Linked DNA regions of Homo sapiens: region 1 is linked to region 2. The links come from fine-mapping of genetic effects on gene expression. A gene starts in region 2. The other region holds a variant in brackets. All regions are shown on one strand. Distances are from middle to middle.

Region 1 (2,904 bases), 24 kb before region 2:
CGATCTGGGCTCACTGCAACCTCTGCCTCCCAGGTTCAAGTGATTCTCCAGCCTCAGCCTCCCAAGTAGTGGGGATTACCGGTGCCCATCACCACTCCCAGCTAATTTTTGTATTTTTAGTACAGGCGGGGTTTCACCATGTTGGCCAGGCTGGTCTTGAACTCCTGGCCTCAAGTGGTCCTCCTGCTGTGGCCTCCCAAAGTGCTGGGAGTACAGGCATGAGCCACCACGCCCAGCCAATGTGTCCTTTTTAATAATAACATTTTGTCAATGGAATCCTCACTGAAAGGAACTCTAAGGTGGATCTGTAGCTGTTGAAAATCTGGTTCTGAATCTTGGGTTTCCATGAAGAAGTGCTGAGGGATTTTCAAGTGATTCCAAAGCACAGAAAAACCCCAAGGCCATACCTCGTTGTGCATCAGAGTGGTGAGGTCTGCGTTGGACCTGCTGGAACCAAGCAGAGGACACAGGAGCCACGTCAGTGAGGCCGACTCTTGGGAGGGGAGGTCCCCCTGCATCAGGCGTTTGGTGTAAGGGACTTAAACTCTCTGGATTCCAGTTTTCTAGTCTCCAGAGAAGACTAATCTCTCCCTTGTCTTCCTTGCCTTCTGAGATGCTGTAAGGATTAGTGGGGCCAGGGGCCTGCTTCCTTCTGAGGGCAGGGGCAGCACTTTCCTTTGATATTAACAATCGTCCTAACAGCAGATGTGGAGTGGATATTAGATACAGAGTGCACATATATGGGCTTTAACCCCCAGACATTGTTAATCCTCATCACAGATCTATGGTCCTGGCATTCATACCTCCATTTACACCAGTACTTAGCACGGGGATGCTAAGTGGCAGAGGAGGGTAGGAGTCCAGGAGTCTGTCTCTCTGGAAAGCCTATGCCCCCTGACCATGTTCTCACTGGCTGACTCTCATGTTCTCACTGGCTGACTCTCATGTTCTCACTGACTGACTCTGGGAAGACCACTATCTAGAAAGGGGAACTTGTGATATGCGTATCGGAGGTGACAGGAGCAGGGAGGGCCTGGATTGTACTCAGGGAAAGTCAAGGGAGAGGGAGAGGGTGGCGGAGGGGGAGGACTTCTGATCAGCAAGTACACCTCAGGGGGTGAGTCTCTCCCACCCCTGCTGGTCCCCAACCTTTGCCTTGAGGACAGAAGAAGATGAGAACTTAGCCATCAGTGTAACTGACACACTGAGTGATCAGTGAATGTTTCCAGTTTGTCTTAGTTGCGAGGACAGTGGGAGCCACCAGCTCAGCCACTGTGAAGACAGAGAGCGTATTGGGCACACACATGCGGGATGTGGGTCCTGCGGCCATGGTCCCTCTTCAGGCTCTGTCAGGGAAGGATAAGAAGCTGACAGGC[G/C]TGCAGAGGGAAGTGTTCTTTGGAGTGAGTTCTTAGCCTGGGAGGAGAATGTGCTGTGATGTTTCCCTTCCCTTCTTCCCAAACTGGGTGAGGAGGGTAGGCGAGGATCCTCAGGTAGCATGGGAGGTGGTGGCCGCAAGAGTGCTGTCTGCACACCCAGCAAATGACCCAGTTCCCACCAGCACAAAAGATGCTTAGAGTTCTAGGGACAACTCAGGCTTTTCTTTTGGAGTTTGGGGATACATTTTTGTGTGGAAAAGAGCAAAGGCAAGAAGCCAGTAGGGTGATGCCAGAGAGGCCACAGGGAGGAGAAAAGGCCACAGTGAGGATGGCCTTTTCCTGGGTCACCTGGGACAGGCCTGCCCAGAGGCAGAGGCAGCCCCAATACAGGGGTTGTGGGGGAGTTAACCACCAGAGCACAGGCCCTGGAGGGTGGCGTGAGTGTTAATCCCAGAGCAAGGCCCTGCCATCAGGCCTGAGGCCCTGCAGAGGGCGCCATAATGGGATGCTCCAAAGACCCTGAAGGCAGTTGCCCCACAGATGAAAGAGCCAGGGACTGAAATCTCAGAGAGGGCACCAACCCCAGACCTCAATAGCCCCCATCCAGACCCTTCTCACCCATTTATCTTTCCTGTACCCTAGAGCTGCTGTCCTAAGCCCAGAAAAGTCAGAAGCAGCAGAGTGAGGGTGCGGTTAGGGGAGGAGGAGAAGAGGGAGGTGGAGGAAGACAGAAAGAAGCTCAACTCCCTCCCCCGACTTACTTTCACCTTCTTTCTTCTGCAGGCCTAGGGTGAGGGGTGGGTGGGTATGGGAGAAGCTTTGGCTGAGAAGTTGAAGTTTTGATTTGAATTTGGACTAGTCTCCCAAATGTCTGAACATGAGATTGTTATAATACCTGAAAGGAACCAGGAGAGCTACGGGATTTGCCTGGGATATCATCAAGGGTGATGTCATCAAGAAATCCAATATGCTATGATTGAAGATAGTGGTGGAGAAAAATAAAGCGATTTCCTGATGGCACCCTTCCACGTCTGTCCCACTGTGAACGCTGATTTCACCCAATGTGCGTTCTCCTTTTTTACAACAAGGGCAAATGACAGAGCTGAGCTGTATTACAAATCCAGCTTTTAAATGTGGACTATTCATTGTGGCATGCCTGTGGGCCACATTTTGAAATAGAATCTCCAAATGGAATCAGCTGTTAATAGAGCTTCCTCCAGGAATGTCTGAGGCTGCTTCTCCTTTTCCAGCTCTGCTTCCCATCATCACAAGGCCCTCTCACCTCCTGTCCCCTCATCCCCTACCTGTCACCTAAGTTTTCTTTGCCATATCTAACAAGACCAAATCTACCAAGACCTTATCTAATATCTAGAAAATATTTCATGATTCTCCAAGAATCTGCAGTGGCATCGAGATGTGAACGGTTTTCCGTTAACAAATTAAACATACTATTTTCCTAAAAGGGACATGAATTTAGAAGAGATTCTGCATGGTGGCTGTGTGGACAGTTCATATATCCACTGAGATT
Region 2 (2,904 bases):
CAAACGTGATTAACCTGTTTTAGCTTATTTTTCCTAAAGTCTCCAGGGCAGTGCCAGCTGGGGGAAGGGGACAAGCCACAGACAGGAGGAAGAGAACAGCGGAGGGAAGGGAAGGGAAGCAGGTGACCACCAGGAGGGTGTGACAGGCAAGCTGGATGCTGAGCCAGAGCTGAGGTTCCTCTGTTCTCACAAACCAGGTGAAGAATGAGGTCACGGGCTAGAGTTTGGGGGCTCTTATCTCTTTTTTATCGTGTCACTTTTTGTCTGTCCTTCAAGAGGACAGAGAAGAAAACACAGAAGACACAAATAATTCAAGGCCACGTGCATGGGAGCAGGGCAGCCTGCTAAGTTCTGCTTTCATTCCTTCCCTAAACATTCATTCCCTGAAGTTGATAGGCGCCTTCGGGATTAGAGCTTCAACTGTGGTCATCGAAGCCCACCAGGACACGACCACAGACCACGGATTGGCTCCACGGTTCTCTTCCTCCCCCAACCTTCTCCTCAGTGCCACTATTGGGAGCTCTTTCTGTGTCTCCAGGGGCTCTCAGATAACCAGGGTCCCAGGTGAACTCCCGACAAACACAGGTGCACCATGTCGTTTGCATGGGTGTCGCTGGCCCCCGCTGCTGGGGCAGGCTGGCCTGCTGCTTGGTGCAACACCCATCAGTCACTTCTGCCAAGGCCCCTACTCTGTCCTGACCCCGGTGGGGGCCATGGGGTTGGGGGAATGGGACTGGGATAGGAGATGAACATGACAGCTTTTAGGAAGAAGATATCTTGGTTTCCTCTGGAAAAATCCTTCCATTTCTTTAAACCCACCACAAGCCACTTTGAGGGACTGCCTGAGCGCCCCATGTTCCCCTACCGACCTCCCCTCTTTGCCCTCCCACTGACTCCCAGACCCCCGGTGGGCGCAGGTCGGTACTCACGCTGCTGGGGTGGAGGACGGGCAGAGGCAGCAGCAGGAGCGGGACGCAGACGACCAGCAGCAGCTTCCGGACTCGGAGCAGGCCCTGCAGCAGGCCCATCGCGCCTCTGTCCTCTCCAGCTCGTCCTTGGACCCCGCTCTGCCGGCGAAAGGCTTCCTGCCTGGGCACTGCTCTCTATCCAGAAAGACTTCTTAAACCTTTCTTGGCTTCCGAGAGTCCTCCTTCGTCTTGGGGGCAGAACGGGAGGGCAGTTATACCCTCGCTGTTTCTACAAGAGGCTGGGCTCCTGGCCTCCTGCTTTAGGTGGGATTGATGAGCATCGTTTTGTGACCAGCAAAAAGGAACTGGGAAAGGATGATAAACGGGGGCATAGTGGGCCTCCTCTCGGCTTGATTAGTAATAGAGTAACTTCATTCTAGGTGTCAGCAGAAACCCCCTTAATCCTTTAAGCCACACCTTTGCTGCTGCTGCTCGGCCTTGAAGAAATCATTTAAAAGCTTAAAAACATTAAAAACGCTCAGAGCACATTGTGCTCTCCATCAGTTTTCCTCCCTCGGATGACCTATTTTGGGGAGTACCTGTTTCATCTCCCACCTGGGCTCGCTGTTGGTAAGACTCTAGTAGCCCCTTTCCTTAAAACAAGCACCTGAGCTTGTCAGAGTTGCATGCGGACTTCAGGTGGGGCTGCTGGTCGCTCCCAGGACGTGGTACCTTAACTCTGTTCACATGTCTTTCCCTCAAATTGGTTCCCTACTTATAATTTGCCTTGAGCCTGGGCCTGCAAAGCAGAAAAGAAAAGTCCCCAAGACATTCCTTTTTATCAAAGGACAAAACTTGCTGGAGGCCCACCTTTAACTTTCATCCACCAATGGGAAGCCGGGACAGAGACAGTAGCTCCGCCCACTTCTCAAAGCCAATCAGCAAATTGAAAAGAATGAGTCAATTTCTCTCCCCGCGGCCGCTCTTGATTGGTCACAGCGGGGGCCTGCTGATTCCGCAGAACCTAGGCAGCCTGCTAAGCTTATTTTTCAGTTTCTCAAACTTCCTAGGGCTGGAGTGATGACCATCATCGTAAACATAATCTCACGTACCCAAGCACAGCTTTATTGTTTCGGATCATAGGACACAGAGCTTTCGCTGGGAGGGCCACCTGCTGATCTAGACCTTGGGAAGGGAATGTGCCTGGTGGCAGGGAGAAAATGCAACATTACTTCTGGAGAATTTGCCTCAGAGTGTACAAAGTTAAGCCTTTCAGACCTCCCTGCTGGCAAAGATCGTTTGCCTCAGCACCGAGGGGGGAATATAAAGGGTCTAGGCCAGCAGAGGGTATGAGCTCGTGAGAAAGACCCCAGATCTTTTGGGAAGTATAGCTGCCTCCCTGGCAAAGTCTAGATGCCAGTCTCATGCCCAGATGTCAGTGGTCTCTCTGGCTAAAGTAGGTGCTCAAATGCTTCTCTCTGGGGCTCTCCAAAAAGGAAACCGAAGACCTTCTTTGGCTGGTACGAAAGGAGGAGGTGGGAGGGCAGGGAAGAAGTTGACAAGTTCAGGGACAAGGTCTTAGCTGCAGTTGAACTCTGGAATTTCTCCTGTTTACAGATTGGAAGAAGTTGTTAGCTTCTTTTCTCAGAACGGACATGTGGATTTGGGGCAAGGAAGAAAAGCAAAAGCAAAAGCCCAAACATTCTGTAAGTAGTGGTTCTTGGCAACATTACCTTACCTTGATCTGGGAGATGCTGAGCAGAGTCAAAGGGTTATAAAACCCATGTTGTCTTGAATTCACAGAACACAGGAATGGCGTTCGAAGATCTGCAACTATACTACTTGGAAATGATCCCCAGGCTAAAGTGACCAGGGAAGTGACCCAAAAAACAAATTCTTCTTGACTTTTAAGGCAGGTGCAACTGTGGACAGCTGAGGTCCCCTTTGAAATTATCTTGCCATCGTAGGATGGGCTAGGATGACTCAACTCTTTAAA

What was found. PIP is the estimated chance that this variant, and not a neighbour inherited with it, causes the effect. A credible set is the group of variants that fine-mapping cannot tell apart.
Region 1: its variant is the best candidate, but not a certain one, in a credible set for the expression of SLC13A4 in tibial artery (GTEx, PIP 0.83).

What each region holds. Positions count from the first base shown.
Region 1 is chr7:135,702,438-135,705,341 of GRCh38, forward strand. It overlaps SLC13A4 (solute carrier family 13 member 4), which reads right to left. Exons shown (of 16, transcript NM_001318192.2): 6 at 408-447. It overlaps LOC105375521 (a long non-coding RNA gene), which reads left to right. Exons shown (of 5, transcript XR_928021.3): 4 at 1-2,904. Among named protein-coding and RNA genes, the nearest start is that of SLC13A4, 24 kb to the right of the region's middle. RefSeq lists an enhancer at 1,664-1,958. The variant G/C (reference allele first, on the strand shown) is at 1,377.
Region 2 is chr7:135,726,469-135,729,372 of GRCh38, forward strand. It overlaps SLC13A4 (solute carrier family 13 member 4), which reads right to left and starts at 1,718. Exons shown (of 16, transcript NM_001318192.2): 1 at 930-1,718. The coding sequence starts at 1,028.